Linked DNA regions of Homo sapiens: region 1 is linked to region 2. Evidence: fine-mapped expression QTL. A gene starts in region 2. The other region holds a variant in brackets. All regions are shown on one strand. Distances are from middle to middle. Region 1 has its middle 54 kb from the start of LYZL4. Region 2 holds the start of VIPR1 (vasoactive intestinal peptide receptor 1).

Evidence for each region. PIP is the estimated chance that this variant, and not a neighbour inherited with it, causes the effect. A credible set is the group of variants that fine-mapping cannot tell apart.
Region 1: its variant is the best candidate, but not a certain one, in a credible set for the expression of VIPR1 in whole blood (TOPMed, PIP 0.57).

What each region holds. Positions count from the first base shown.
Region 1 is chr3:42,352,557-42,360,886 of GRCh38, forward strand. It overlaps a transcript of LYZL4 not described here. Among named protein-coding and RNA genes, the nearest start is that of LYZL4, 54 kb to the right of the region's middle. The variant C/T (reference allele first, on the strand shown) is at 3,422.
Region 2 is chr3:42,498,391-42,506,671 of GRCh38, forward strand. It overlaps VIPR1 (vasoactive intestinal peptide receptor 1), which reads left to right and starts at 4,253. Exons shown (of 13, transcript NM_004624.4): 1 at 4,253-4,423. The coding sequence starts at 4,346. RefSeq lists an enhancer at 2,751-3,324 and silencers at 3,852-3,951, 4,012-4,511.

The DNA.
Region 1 (8,330 bases), 150 kb before region 2:
TCATTAAAAGCAGATTCTCATCTGGGAATCACCTTTTCTCTTCAGTGGCAGTAATAGAACTCTTTTTTCAAATTAAATTCATATGTAAACAGGTTAAAGCAGAGCCATTCAGGCTAATACAGGGCAAAGGGTCCCCAGAACCACCTAGTCCTCTGCCCATAGAGGCTCCTGGGGCACATCCCCAGGATGCGGGACACAGCAGGAAAACCTGTAGCAAAGTTCAGAAGGCTGGGTGGTGAACAAGGACTCAGAAGGTCTAGGAGGAAATGAATGTTCTAAAGTGTGAGGGAATATGGACATAGTTGCTCACAGCAAGGTTCACACATGGGTCTTAGTTTGAGCTCCCCCAGAAGCTGACCCTCAGATAAGGATATGAGTGCAAGTAGTTTATTTGGGAAGTGGAAGGAACATGGGTAGGTGAAGAAGAAAGATATTTGAGCAAGGGAAGGCAGCTAGTAAGTGTGTGCTGTCACACCAGCTACTGCAATATGGAACTGGTGCTTAAGCTTAAGAGGAAACTCTGGGAAACAGTGAAAGGTAACAAAGCTGGGGAATTCACACCTGCCAGTCATGGCTTAAGGACTGGCCCAGATGGTAATTCCCTGGTTCTTCCCACTCCTTCCCTCCTGCAGGCAACAAAGATGGCTGATGGCAGTCAGGCTGACACCATGCGCTGAAATAGCAAGGGTCTCTGATGGGATATGGGTGAACACTTTCAGCTGCCTCAGGATGGTCTTATCAATGAGTCTGGTGACAGCAGAAGTGTTCATTCTGCCTAATTCTCCATCACCACCCATCAGCGTCCAGGTTTATGGCGAGACCACCCTGCATCCTGCTCTGCAGTCCTCAGACCAACACCGACTGGGGGGACAGTTGTCATTTTTGGCTGCCTATTCCCCATGGCCCTCACTACAGCACTGAGTTTTTCTATCACAAAATGATTTCTCCGTGTAGGGAGAAAGAAGCCTTCTTAGAGTCTCTGTCTCTTGGTGATCTGAAATATCCATCTCCATGCGATCAAAAGGCATCCAAGTCTGGGCACAGAGAGAAGAAGCATTCCTAATTCCAGAAGTTCCTGAGAGAACAGGGCCAGCTTTCTGGCAGAACAGAGATGTGAACTCAATGTCCTTTGGGAAATTAGCTTTAGTTCTGTACCAAGAGCCTATAATTATACTGACCAGGCTAGGGTACTTGAAATGATGATTAAGGCATGAATGAAAAATAAAAGATCCCTTTGTTTTTATGCTCATTATGCCTCTTTTTGATGACTATGCAAAAAAAAAAAATGCCTTTCAAACAATTAGCTTAATTAGCAGATTGTATTTTCATTCCCAGCTCCAAGCCAAGTGCCCAGCAGTTGATCATAGCTGGGTAAGGATGCACTGGCCCTGCCTACCTTCCTCCTCCCACCCACCTCCATGTTCCAGAACATGGCATTTGGGGTTGATCTTTACCTTGGCCCATCTCCCAGCAGCCCTTGGGCTGAGTTCATTGCAGTCTGTGGGCCCAGCTCTGCCTGGACAGCCCTGGCTCCTCAAGACAGGAGTCTGTTTGAGGGAGGGAAGGAATAGGTGGAAACCAAGCTTCCTAGTCTGATAATGCAATCCAGTGTAATCTGGCCCCAGCCTACATCCCAGGTCCACACACCCTTCCTAGAAGCCATCCCCACTCTCTGGCTCCATGTCTCTGGTCTGCTGTCCCTTCTCCCACCCTACTTGTGCATCCCAGATTCTACCTGTGCCTCAGGGTGGCTTGCCTCCTCTATGAGGTCTTTCTTGTTTCTTTTAAGGCCTTTTGCCTGTACTTCTCCCATTATCCTCACCACTTTAAAATGGATTCAATTAAAAAGGCAATAGATGAGCTTATTCTTAATAGAAAACATTAAGAAATGAATAATTATCTAGAAAAAAGTAGGAACTCCTCCACCACTGCCTCCCTACTCCCCACCCCTTCCCCGAGGAAATCACTGGGAACAGTCGACCACACAATGAATGTTATGCAGTGCTTGCTTCTTTCGTTTAATAGAATACATCTTGGACATTTTCCATATCCAGGACTTACAGGTCAGCTTAACTCTTTTCAGTGGTTGCTGAACTGCCCCATCTGTTACCAGCCCACTATGGATGGTCAAGGGAATTTGTAACTAATGGAGTTAGAGTGCAGGTGTTTGGGAATGAATTTACTCCTTTTCCTCCTCCTCCTTTCTTCTTCTTCACCCTCCTCCTCTTCCTCCTTACCTTCCTCCTCTTGTTCCTCACACTCCTCCTCCTCCTTTTCTCCCTCCTCCTTCTCTCCCACCTCCTCCTTTTCATCCTTTATACAAATTAGAGGTCTTAAGTCCATTCCTAAAATGTCATTCTCACTCCTTTGCATTCTGACTTTCTTCTCACTCTAAAATATATATGCATACAAATATTCTAATTCTGAAATATTTTTAAAATATGGACAAGTGTAGAGAATCATATAAAACATCTACATGCACATTTAACAAGCAGTAATATTTTGAAATACAGGCATATCTCATTTTATTGAGCTTTGCTTTATTTTGCTTTTCAAATACTGTGTTTTTCACAAATTGAAGGTTTCCAGCAACTCTGTGCCAAGAAAGTCTATTGGTCTCATTTTTCCAACAGCATGTGCTCACTTTGTGTCTCTATGTCACATTTTGGTAATTCTCACAATATTTCAAACTTTTTATTATTATATGTGTTATGATGATTTATGATCAGTGATCTCTGAAGTTACTATTGTAATTGTTTAGGGGCACCATGAACCACACCCATAGAAGACAGTGAACTTAACAAATGTTGTCTGTGTTCTGACTGCTCCACCAACCAGCCATTCTCCAATCTTTCTCTCCTCTGGCCTCCCTATTCCCTGATTCACAACAATATTGAAATGAGACCAATTAATAACCCTACTATAGCTTGCAAGTGTTCAAATGAAAGGAAGAGTTGCACATCTCTCACTTTAAATAAAAAGCTAGAAATGATTAAGCTTAGTGAGGAAGGCATGTTCCTCCTCATCCTGAAATAGGCTGAAAGCTAGTCCCCTTATGTCAAATGGTTAACCAAGCTGTGAAAGCAAAGGAAAAATTATTGAAGAATATTATAAATGTTACTCCAGTAAACACATATTATAAGAAAGGGAAATAGCTTTATTGTTGATATGGGGAAAGTTTTAGTGGTATGGGTAGAAGATCAAACCAGCCACAATATTTCTTTAAGCCAAAACCTGATCCAGAGCAAGGCCATAACTCTCTTTGATTCTGTGAAGGCTGAGAGAGGTGAGGAAGCTGCAGAAGAAAACTTTGAAGTTAGCAGAGGTTGGTCCATACAGTTTGAGGAAAGAAGCCATCTTCATAACATAAAAGTGCAAGGTGAAGCAGCAAGTGCTGATGGAGAAGCTGCAGCAAGAGATC[C/T]AGAAGATCTAGCTAAGATCATTGATGAAGGCATCTACACTAAAGAACAGATTTTCAGTGTAGACCAAACAGCCTTATATTGGAAGAAGATGCCATCTAGGACATTCATAGCTGGAGAGGAGAAGTCAATGTCTGTCTTCAAAACTTCAAAAGACAGGTTGACTCTCTTGTTAAGAGCTAATGCAGCTGGTGTCTTTAAGTTGAAGCCAATGCTCATGACCATTCTGAAAATGCTAGGGGCCATCAGAATTATTCCAAATCTACTCTGCCTGTGCTCTATAAATGAACCAACAAAGCCTGACAGCACATCTGTTTGCAGCATGGTTTACTGAATATTTTAAACCAACTATTGAAACTACTGCTCAGAAAAAAAGAATTCCTGTCAAAATATTACTGCTCATTGACAATACACCTAGACACTCAAGAGCTCTGATGGAGATTTACAAGGAGATTAATGTTTTTTTCATACCTGCTAACACAACATCCATTCTGAAGCTCATGAAATAGTGAAATGAGTAATTTTGACTTTCAAATTCTATTATTTCAGAAATACATTTCATAAGGATATAGCTGCCATAAATAGTAATTCCTCTGATGGATTTGGGTAAAATAAATTGAAAACCTTCTGGAAAACATTCACCATTCTAGATGTCATTAAGAACTTTCACAATTTGGCCAGGCACGGTGGCTCAGGCCTGTACTCCCAGCAATTTTGGAGGCCAAGGCGGGCAGATCACCTGAGGTTGGGAATTTAAGATCAGACTGACTAACATGGAGAAACCCCATCTCTACTAAAAATACAAAATTAGCTGTTCATGGCGGTGCATGCCTGTAATCCCAGCTACTCAGGAGGCTGAAGCAGGAGAATTGCTTGAACCCGGGAAGCAGAGGTTGCGGTGAGCCGAGATCATGCCATTGCACTCCAGCCTGGGTGACAAGATTGAAACTCCGTCTCAAAAAAAAAAAAAAAAAATTCACGATTTAAGGGAGGAGGTCAAAATATCAACATTAGCAGGAGTTTGGAAGAAGTTGATTTTAGCTGTCAAGGATGACTTATAGAAGTTCAAGAATTCAGTGGAGGAAGTCACTGCAGGTGTGGCGGAAATAGCAAGAGAACTAGATTTAGAAGTGGAGCCTGAAGATGAGACTGAATTGCTGCATTCTCATGATCAAACTTGAGTGGATGAGGAGTTGCTTCTTGTGAATGAGCAAAGAAAGTGGTTTCTTGAGATGGAATCTACTCCTGGTGAAGATGCTGTGTACACTGTTGAAATGACAACGAAGGATTTAGAATATTACATATTCTTAGTTGATAAATCAGCAGCAGGGTTTGAGAGGATTGACTCCAATTTTGAAAGAAGTTCTGCTATGGTTAGAGGGCTATCAAACAACATTGTATGCTACAGAGAAATCTTTCGTGAAAGAGTCAATCAATGAGGCAAACTTCATTGTTGTCTTATATTAAGAAATTGCTACAGCCACCCCAACTTTTGGCAACCACCAACTGATCAGTCAGCAGCCATCAACATCAGGGCAACACCCTCCATTAGCAAAAAGATGACTTGCTGAAGGGTCAGATGATCATTAGCATTTTCTCAGCAATAAAGCATTTTTAAATTAAGCCATGTACATTTTTTAGACATACTGTCATTGTATACTTAATAAATTACAATATAGTGTAAATGTAACATTTACATGCATTGGGAAACCAAAAAATTTGTACAATTCATTTTGTTCTGACACCTGCAATATCTCCATGATGCCTGTATTTCTTCAAATACTAAAAAAAAGAAAAGAGAATGGAAACAAAAATCAGTTGCAAGTAAAGCTAAATTCTCTCCCTGTGCCTCATTTCTCTCCTCCTGACATTTTTGAAGTACTCACCATTCTAATGCTGTATATTTTTTTCATCCTTGTTTTCATAGTTTGCTACTATGGTTGGGGGGACAAAATATGAAGATATTTAAGAGCATGTATGGAGCATGGCACCAACCAGAGTGATAACCAACCATATACCACTCAGCTTACCCAGCATTGACCCCTGAATGTTAGTTCTGTTCATAAGTAGTCTTTCATTAACAATGCATTGTTTTGTGAGTCTTCAAGAGATATTAGCACACTCTATTTCCTTTTGCAACTTGTCTTTCACTCAACATTATGCTTGGAGATTGCTTCCTGTAAATACTGATAAGTCTAGCTCACTCTCGATAATATCATGCTTTCTTGATGGGGAGAGGAAGGAAGTTATGTCCAGGAACCTGGGTGTCATACAAACAGAGCCTGTCCTAACAGGGCCATAGCTGGGCCTTGAATCTCACACAAGTATATGAGATGCTTTTGTGAGGATTGGGCCAAAAAAGGCTGTCATGCCTATTGCTTCATTTACTTGCATAATTTGAGGTTTCATAAAATTTGGGAATGCCTATTGTGAGAAACAAACTCACTTGTCCAAATTTAAAGAATGGACTCAGAGACCCGGAGAACAGCGAAAGTGAGACTTTTAAGGACCATCTTGCAAGATCAGGTGTCTGATGGGCAGGCACACCCAGCACAGTCACAACAAACAATTTACCCCCTAGTGCACAGGTTCCTCCCCCAGTTCCTCATAGGCTGACTACTATGGGGTCACAATCTTCCCACACGTCACCTATCAGTTGCTGGGCTGGGGCTTAGGTGTTTTCTTTGGGGTTGTCTTGCTGCATTTTGTTGCAGCCCACAATGCGTTGCATTCCTAGTCAGCTCAGGGGCTCTTTAAGTATTTGACTTATGACTTAAGTAGCTGGGCAGGCTGATGAGAATAGACAAAGTGAGCTATCTTGCAGGCTAGTAAACTTTCATCTTAGACTAAACTTTTTTGGTTTGGGTGGGGGCAACTAACGGGGTCGGGGGTGGTGCAGGGAGGTGCGCGACAAGCAGGCATTGACTATCCAAGCAGGGGCCTAGTGTATCCTGTTTTTTTCTGTAGTTTGCTAACCTAAACCGATTCAAGGCACTTTGTCTTGGACCACTGTATACGTTATTTCCTTCACTATCAATATGTAAATGTTATATTTGCTGGGAGGAAAACAAAAAATTGGGAACAGCAGGACTAGGGAAGCATTTTGCTATTTTGTAAATGGACACAGGGTCCTCTCTTGAATATCTATTGACAGTCCTAAGAGAAGAAACACCATGTCCCAGTACAGGTGGGAAGGCTGGGATGGAGAAGGGAGGCCCTCTTGTGCTGCCTAGGTACCAATCCAATAGCACCAATAAGCAAAGGGCCCAAAAAGGAAGACCTGGGGAAATGAGAATGCCTTGTATTAATTAGTAGAGGGGGTCTGGATGCCAAAGAGAATGGGTTATAGAGTTAAAGGGTTGGAATCTGCGATCTCATTTGCCTAAGTTATCAGAGGGTAAGAAATTCAGGCAGAAAGCACAGGTCTAGTCCAGGGAAAACCTGTAAGCAGGAGAAGTCTGGATTTAGGGCCTCCCACAAGGATATCAATGCATCTTTTCCTCCCTGCCCCCTTTCCCACCATCAAAATCATTACTCAGGAAAGAGGCTGATATTAGTCATTTATACTCTCTACAAGTAAATCTCAGGGGTATTTGCATCCTTCTTCCTAAGTGTGGCATGAGATATTCTGTTCCTGCTGGATCAGGTCCCTGCACTGGGGCAAATAATGGCAGGCAAGAGAGTACACTTCCTGCAGAGGAGAACTTGTCGACATCTAACAAAGCTACAGACTCATTTACTCTTTAGCCAACCTAAGCAATCCCACTTCCAGAAATTCACCTTTAAGATACACGTCCACGGATACAAAGCAACATGTGCAGGAGGTTTTTTATAGTGACATTAGTTATAATAGCAAAAATTAGAAATAATCCAAATGTCCATCCACAGGGGATTTGATAGAGTGACCTACTTGTTCCAGTTTTAAAACTGGAAGTCCCGTGTGCAGAAAATTCCCTCAGTCTCAGACAAACTTTGTCCCATTCATCTTTAAGCATTTCTGGACCAACCAGACTTATGAGATTCCTCTTGTATTTCCCTGGAATCAGCTATTTCCCAAAAGAGCCATCATTCATTTGAGTGGGGAAGGATACTGTTTTATTTTTATTTTTTGAGATGGAGTCTCGCTCTGTTGCCCAGGCTGGAGTGCATGGCACGATCTCGGCTCACTGCAACCTCCACCTCCTGGGTTCAAGCAATTCTCCTGCCTCAGCTCCCTGAGTAACTGGGATTACAGGTGCCCACCACCACGCTCAGCTAATTTTTGTATTTTTAGTAGAGATGGGGTTTTGCCATGTTGGCGAGGCTGGTCTCAAACTCCTGGCTTCAAGTGATCTGCCCACCTTGGCTTCCCAAATTGCTGGGATTATAGCCGTGAGCCACCAGTGGCACCCGGTCAGTACTGTTATTAGAAGCTAAGATTTGGGGACTTGGTATACTGAGGTGTTATTGCTTCTAGGGCCTTTCAGTTGACAGAGAAAAAATAAAAATATACGTATTATATATAATATATACAATTATGAGTTTATATTTACTCCAATTCAAATGTAACATTTCAGGTTTTCATTAAATCTATTGTATTTTGTATATAAATCGCTTTTTTCTTACTCTAAAAATCTTTTGATTCTTAATACTATTAGAATATATTTACTTATTTTCTTTATTCTCTAATATACATAGATAGAATAGTTTCAGGAATTTACTTCTTTGCTTTAATCTTACAATATACTTAAAAATTTTCCAAAGTTAAAAACCACTATTACCAGTACTAATACAATTACAAAGTAACCTTAAATATTTATATGCAGTTTTTTTTTTACTCTTGGAATATTTTTCACAGAGGACTAGAACCAGAGAACTGTATCAGAGATGTCTGAATTTTTTTCTTTTCTCGTCATATCTGTGTTACTAATT
Region 2 (8,281 bases):
AGTCTGAGTTTCTCTCTGCCCAATCCTACTTTCTCCTCTTTTGTCTCTCACAGGTCCCCCTGCCATCCAATAAACATTCACACTCCTAACTCCACCTTAGCATTTGCTCACTAGAGGACCTGAACTGACACACCTATAGTTAGCACCACCCTTCCCCGCAACAGAGCTCTAAGCCCCAGCCTCCAGGACCAGGAATAGCCATTTCAGAACTTGTCCTTGAGCTTCATTTCCAAATCTGTTATGTCAGGATGATTCTTTCTCCATCACCTGCTCTCCCGTGAACTTGGTTTTCTTCCTAGATGCAGGTGTAGCACCAACAGAAGATCCCCCACAATCCCACACCCAAGCAGTGCTAGGCTTCCCTGCAGAGGACAGCCCATGTCTAAGACACAGTCACGTCCCCAATCCCCAGATGAGTGCGGGTGTTGAGACGTGAAGGATGAATGAATGATATTCACTGCATGCTGTTATGGAAGGGAGGAAGGGAATATTTCTTCTTTAAATGCCTGCCCAGGCCTCTCCTGCCCTCCACCAAATTACAGCCTGGAGTTAAGGTGCATCTTCTCACAGGAAGAACTGGCCCCAAAAGAAGGTGCACCCTGGGGAGGTGGTGATCACTCCATGTTGCCAGAGCTACCAGCCCCGCTCTATGGATAAAGACCAAAAGTGTAGGTCCCTTCAACTCAGAAGCCCGGAGAAAGCAAATGTTGCCTGCATCCAGACAGCAACGTGGGTGGCTCTGGCAGGGGAATCCTAGAGCAGTGACTCCCCCAGCCAGGTGGTTTCCTCACCATCTCCTAGCCTGGCCTCCAGCGTACAGGTCAAGGCCACTCTGTGGCCCCCCCAGCCCCCTTCCCACTCCACCACAGAACCTCACCACCATGGAGCCCCTGAGCTGGAAGCCTTGAAGGCAGTGAGTGCACGATTCTGAGAGGAGGCGAGGGCGGCACACAGCGCATGGATGAGACAGGCAGGAAGCCAGGCAGGCTCAGAATGAGTAACTGCAGATTCTCTTTGTGCCATGCCTGTTGTCACGGGGGATGGCAAGTGACTCCACTTCTCTCTCTTTCCCGCCACCTCCCGTGTCCTTGGCACCCATGTGATTCTGACATCCAGAAGGGATATGAGATGGTGCTAGAGACTAGGGACAGGTTTTAGGGATCCCAGAGGGGAGACTTCAGAACAGACCCCCCCAGGGAGGAATCCATGCAAGAAGGACATGGGGGAACAGAGAGTAGGAGGCGACTATGGCTCTCCTCCTCAAGCCTGGACTGGGAAGGCAAGGCAGACTCCAGAGGGGCTTAGGCTTTGGACAGGGTGGGGAGATTGGGACCACAGGCTTCCCACTCCCTCAGGTAGTCCGTCGGCCCCCCCTCTGCTTCTGACATCCCTCTTCCTCCAAGAAGCCTTCCCAGATCAACTGGGTGCACAAAAGGATGGCTTCCTCAGCAGATTCTACAGGACTCCCCAAGAGTGGGCCCACGGTTGACCCCCTTCCCCCCAGTGCTTCAGAACACAGGACAGGACATTCGGGAGCAATTAGTTGAAACACAGTCACATTTAATGTTGGTTGAATTTTTTAGGTTTTTGTTTGGTTTTGCTATTTTCTTTCTGCTCTTTTCATTTCTGAATATGTTTTGTGCCCTTTGATAGGTAAGGAAGGGTGGATCCCCCAGGAGAACAATTCTGAAAGAACAAAGAAGTGATGTTTATTCCGAAGAATCTGCAAGGAAACAATTATTTCTGATTCACCTACTCCCTTCCGGGGAGCAAGGCCTGCAAAGGCATCAGATGCCTTCCCAGCCACTCACTGCCTCCAACCTGGCCATCCAGCCCTCCAACAGAGGAGAGGAAGGGTAGTGTGGGCCCCCCTCCAGAGCCAGGGGAAGGCAACCCATCCCCACTGGTAGCCAGTCCCTCTCCCTCCCTCCCCACCCTGCCCACCAGCCATTCACTGGTGGGTCACATGGCAAAGTGAGGTCTGCCTCTCCAATCCTCACACCCATCATATACCCTCAAGTGTCCAAGAACCTTGTCCTCCAGGAGAGCAGGAGAACTTCAACAACCCTGGGGGCATGACACATTAATGATAGGATTTCAGCATCCTGCAGCTGGCTAGGTGCTGTGTGTGTATGTATGTGTTGAGGAGTGAGGGCTGAGGATTCATGACACCCCAAACCCACAGGTTTGCTCTTCACATCTAGGGCTCCTAGGACACCATGCCAGCACAAGTAACTTCCCAGGAAAAAGACACAATTCCACTGTCCTGCCAGGGAACTGAGACCCGAGACGGGGTACACAGGGTCATAAGGAGAGACAAAGACCCCTGATTTCTGAGCTAACAGCAGCCGTCAGGGGTGTGGATAGCTGAGGAGATGGCTGAGGATGATTCAAACACTCCCGCCATTGGGAGATCGAGTACAAACCCAAGAAAGGCTAGGACAGAGGCATCTCCACAGCTCCCAAATCTAAGGAAAGGCCTGTGTCCAGCCTCACTGATTATATCGGGAAGGAGGTAGAAATTGCAGGGAGTACAGTAGCTCCCCAAGTTCCCCTCATGGCAAGGGGATGCTGCCCATCCACCTCTGTGCCCCCAGTGCACAGCACAGGGCCTGGCACACAGAAAGAGATTAATAAATGTGCATGGAAGAAAGGAGGGAGGGGCTCCATGGTGGCGAGGTTCCCTTTAATGAAGGGAAGGAGGAGAGGGAGGAAAGGGAAAAAGAGCAAGTGCAGGGGATGGAATGCTGGAAGGGAGGAAGAAAGAAGAGAAAGAAGAGAGAGTGGAAAGAAAGTGTAAGTACGCCCTGAAGAAAGGGCCAGGGCACTCATCCCTTCCCGGCTTTCCCCCACTCCCCTCAAGCCCACCCCATGGCAGCATCCCAACGTTCCCTCTCTGTAGGGAGGGAAGCCCTGGTGGGTCCTCAGGGAGCTCCTGCGCGCCTGCTGTTCAGCCAAAGCCTAGCGCGGGACCTCCTTCAGGTAGCCGCACATTCTGCTCAGGGCTCTGGGACCCGCTGCCCTCTCCGCCTCTCCACTGAACTCCGCCTCTCCTTCTGTCACACGGCTCCGCCAGCCACTCTATCCTGCCGCCGCGACCACATCTCCAGCCTCGATTGTGCAGGCTCGAGCCCGTAGAAAGAGGGCTAGCAGCCACCTGCGCTTGGTCCACAAGAAGACGCGCTCCCAGGGCGCAGAGCTGGTGACCCCGCTCCCCATGCCAGGGACGAATAAACGAGAAAAGGGGCTGACCCGGTGTCACCCAGCGGCCGAGCAGCCGCCCCTTGGAAGCTCAGCACCAAAGGCAGGCGGCCAGGGTCCTGGCCCCTCTCTGGACCCCAGTATCCCCAGCTGTAAAATAGGGAATGCAGGAGGAGGACGACGTCTGTGGATCGTTTTAGGTCAGCTGCGGAGTCGGCCTGCGGGCTGGGAGCAGACCTCGCTCCCCACGCGAGGGCGCTGGCACTTCAGCCCAGCCTCCCTGGGGAGGTGCCCTGGACGAGACCCGCGAGGGTGCGGACACCTCATCCTCCCTGGAGCAGGTCTCCCGAGGCTTGAAGGGCCAGGGCACCCAACAGGTGCTGAGCGCGCCCCACCAGGTCACCCGGGAGCAGGGAACACCAAGGAACCCAGAGTCGGGCCTCTTTCGAGCCCTCGCTTCCTCTCGCCTGGCTTCTTCGGCGCGAAGGATGAATTGGGGTTGTTGAAAATTGATCAAACAACCCGATCTCTGTCAGCGCCTGGACACTTGCTGGGCCCCAGCTCGCAGCCTGGGAAGATAAGTGGCACTTCCTGTCTCGTAATCGGATTTGCGCGCACGAACCCTCGGAGACGCACAGGTGGGAAATGGGGAGGCTGGCGGGGAGGCCTCCTGGAGGAGGTGGCTCCGAGGGTAGACATGAGGAGCGCCCTGGGATGGGGCTGAGGGTGGATACAGAGGTGGGAGCTTGCGAAGGTCGTGAGCTAAGCATGGAAGGATGGAATGTGTTCGGGTCTCGAGATTCCCGGGTGATGAGCCCGGAGGGGCGAAGGCCTATAAATGTCTCACGACGGAAGACCAAGGTGTGGGATTGGCAAAGAGAGAGCAGAGCTTCCTCACTGGCAGGGGCTCCCCAGCCCCGCCCCATACCTGCGCGGCGGCCCCGCCTCCACCCATCCATTGGCTAGATCCGCCGCCCGTCAGACGAGCCCCCGGGGCCCGCCCCCAGCCCTGAGCTGCGCCTCTTAGCTCTGGGGCCACAGCGCCAGCGCCACTCTGCCAGGCTCCCGGCCATCGCCCGCCTGGTGCGCCGCCCGCCAGCTCTTTGCCCGCGCGGGGCCGCCCGCCGCGGGCTCAGGGCAGACCATGCGCCCGCCAAGTCCGCTGCCCGCCCGCTGGCTATGCGTGCTGGCAGGCGCCCTCGCCTGGGCCCTTGGGCCGGCGGTGAGTGTTCGCCCGGCCGCCCAGAGTCCCGGCAGCCTGGGGGTTGCGGAGGGCGGGGGAGGTGGGGGATGGCGGGAGCCGGGCCGTCTGTGCGCGTGTCTGTGTAAGAGGAATAGGGGACATCAAGCATCTCGACTCGCCTCCTCCCACCGCTCCAGACCGAACCTAGACGCGAGGGCTGGGATATTGGTCGTGCCCAGTCCCTCCCAGCGCAGCCCGGAGCAGGCACAGCATCAGTGGAGGGGCAGCGGGGAAGAGTGGGCCCCAGACTTGCCTTCCTTGTCGTGGTTGTGGGTGCGCAGCGGGGTGGGGCGGCCAGTGGGTGCAGAGTCAGGTACTGCGGCCGATTGAGATGGAAGGTTTGGTACACCGTAGGTGAGAGGGAGGATGTGAGGGGCCGTTCTTGTGTGCTGTGACCGTCTGGAGGTGCCTGTGGGCTGTCAGCATCAGAACCAGTGCTGGGGGCCCCAGGACTTGAGAAGGGGTTCTTGGGATCAGGTGAGTGACAGGCACATCCCTCCGTGTGCCCTCCCACTGAGCAAAGCAAAAAGGTACCAGACCCCAAGGTGGAAGCTGGTGGGCAGTGAGGGGCTAAGGGTGGTGGTTAACAGGAGGGGCCAGGCCTGTACATGGAGAGAGCTGAGCAGGGAGCCAATGCCAACAAGCAGTGGCCTCCCTCTTCCTCCCACTTCTGCTTCCTCTCAACGTGGGTATGTGTATGCCCTTGATACATGTGTACTCGTGTGCCCCATGTGTGGGTGTGATATGTGTTCCTGTGGATGGCTTACCTGGGCTGGGAGGCAGATGCTGATTGAGGCAGGAGATGCATGGATCATCTCACTCTAGAACAGGGGAGACCTCAGCACTCATTGAGTCTACTGAAGCCCATTTTACAGATGGGCAAAGCGAGGTCCAGAGACACAAGAGCCACATCTGTCTCCCACCAGTTAGACCTAGACAAAGGTTGATTTTCTCCCTACCCCAGACTTTGAGTAATCTAGAGTTGCTGCTTAGGCAGGGCCTTAAATGCCCACTCCAAGTTGGCTGGGGGAGGGTGAGGAATCTTGATTATCTAGTTCATTCTCTCCCATGGTCACTTCCCTTACCATCACCTCCACCAGAGCAGGTATCTCTGTGTTTCCATCTAGCGGATGTCTTGAGCACCCTGGGAATGGGAAGCTCATTGCCTGTCCTAGGAGCGGACCTCTGACAATTGGCAGGAGCCTCACCTCCACCCATGACAGCCATGAGACCCACCTCCTGAGCACTCAAAATCTTACCAAGCTCTGTCCCAGAGGCCACAGCTCTGGCACAACTTGCATGAAGCCTTCAGGCCTCTCCAACCACCATCTGGCCCTCCCAACCCCAGGTTCAAGCCACTCAAACTCTTCTTGGATGAACCGGGGATCTTGGGACCACTGTTGTCACCCCATTCCTCCATCCCGAGAAGCTTCTGAGCCCAGGGGCAGAGTGGATTCAGAGAGGTCTCCTTTCACACCAGGCCACTTCTACTTCACACTTCCTGAGACAGCCCAAATCTGTCTCCTCCCTCCAATGCCTACCCTCCCCCTGTCTTTCCACATCTTATTCGTTTAGTGCCCAACTCTATCTCCTCCTCCAGACAGCCTTCCCTGATTGCTCCAGCCAACTCAACCCTTCCCCCTCTAACCCCACCCTTCAGCCCTACCCACCTCCCAGGCTGGGCTATTCTGGCCATCCTATAAGGTCAGGGGCTGGGGTCTCTTACATCCCCATGTTTCTTACAGCCCAGTGCAGGGGCTGGGTCCACAGAGAGAGGAGAAGGGACTCAACCAGGACTGGGTGAGGGCAGGCTGGAGTGAGGGGTCCCTATTTCCCTCCCTGATTCTCCCTCCTCCCCACCAGCTACCAATCGCTCCCTCATGGAATGGGGCAAACCTGCTCTAGCCGGACTCGGTGTGACGGCGGGGTGGGGGGGCGGGGTGACAGGAGTTATCAGAGTCATAAAATGGCAGCTGCAAAGTTCAAGTTGAAGGCCCAAGGCCTTATCACTCCTGTTTATGGTGCCCTGACTTCAGCCTGGGAAGGAGAAATCTCTGAAAAGGGAGGCAAAAAAAAAAAAAAAAAAAAAAAAGGAAAGAAAACCTCCAGTGTCTCAGAGGAGGAAGTCTGCCCCAAGGCCACCTGTCAAGCCTTCCACTGCCCCTGCCCCCCGGACAGCAGGCACAGGGACTCCTCATCCAGAAGCAGAGCTGCTCAGGGCAATGCCCAGTACGAGGCTGGGGGAGGAGGGTCACAGGCCTCCTCGTGGGAAATTCTCTATCTGGTGTGGGAGACCAGACCCAGTGACTTAGGAGAAAGAGTCCAGGTGGATGTGGGGTACAGCCTCCTAGAACTGGGGCAGGGGTTGCTGAGAGGAACAGTCAGGGGAGGCTCCTGGAAGAAGCAGGACTGTGCCCTAAAGAGTTTGACCAGATGGGCCAATCTTTCACCCTAAACCATAAAACAGCCTCTGTTGACAGGACCAATGGGCCTGCCCCCAGAAGGAGGAGTCCCAGGGACTGGGAGAGGCTCGACTTCTCCCCAACTCTGAGGTTGATCAGTGGCCACAAGCTCCTGAAGGCCTTGCCTTGCCACCGGCATCCTGCTGCCCCTGCCACCTGCCTCTAGCCTCTCCAGAGGCGGACCACAGCTGCCCAGGCCCTCTTGGCCCCCAGCAGGCCACCCTGTGAGCTTTGGGAAACATGGCTGCATCTGGGTCAGGCCTCCTCCTCAAGTGAGGTTACCACCTCAGTTAGGCCTGGCCAGGGCTCCCAGGGTACCATGCTGGAAAAGCGAGCCCTTTTGGAAGTTTCTACCCTCCTGTCCTGGTGCACTAAGACTATGCCTTCTCTGAGGTTTGTGGGACATCCTTGGGGAGCCCAGGCTGGAAACAGGAGAGCTGGTCCTCACTCCACTCCATGGCAATGGCTTGACCTTGGGAACATCTTTAACTTTTGTGGAAGGGCCTCGGGTTCCTCACCACAAAAGGGAAGGTGAGAGGCCTCCGCCCAGTGTGCAGGAGAAGTGGGAGGAGAGGGTTAGGCTGGAGCCAACTCTGCCTCCTGAGTGGGACATAATCTACCCCTGGAGCACCAGGGTCTCTGTGAAAGGGGGTTTGTCTTTCAAGCAGGACTTCTGTGAGCTTTGAAGGAGGTAAAGGTTGTGAAGGTGGCTATGTGAACTGTGTGACTGTCATCCCTTCTCCTACGTCCCCAGCTTGGGAGCCCTGTGCAAACTTATACAGCTATTTCTGGCCCCCATCTTCCCACAGGTTCCCAGGGCAGCAGGAGTCCTGGGGAATGGGGGACGTTTCCTCATTAGGTGGCCAAAACATTTTGGGGGTAAGGCTCCAGGCCTAGGTAGGCAATGGGGCCTCTCAGAGCAGATGGGCCTTCACAACGTGGGCAGCCTCAGTGGAAATCCAACATGGGCCATGAGACCAGGGTAGGGGCTCTAACCTGCCACGTGCCACAACTCTGCCATTGCTGGGCCCTTCACTGTGGCTCCTTTGGCCATGGAGCAGGGAATGGGGCCTGGGGACTATGTAAAGCCTAGTCCCTTTCTTAAATCCTTCTGTTCAACCCCCAGATTCTGCCTTCCCCTCTCTGACTTCTTAACACAAAATGATTTTTATTGTACCCATTGAAAATGTCAGTATGTACTCTCTCACATAACTTAGAAGTATTTCCTTTTTTTCTTTTTTTTCTTTTTGAGATGGAGTCTTGCTCTGTCACCCAGGCTGGAGTGTGGTGGTGTGATCTTGGCTCACTGCAACCTCCAGCTTCCAGGTTTAAGCGATTCTTCTGGCTCAGCCTCCCTAGGAGCTGAGATTACAGG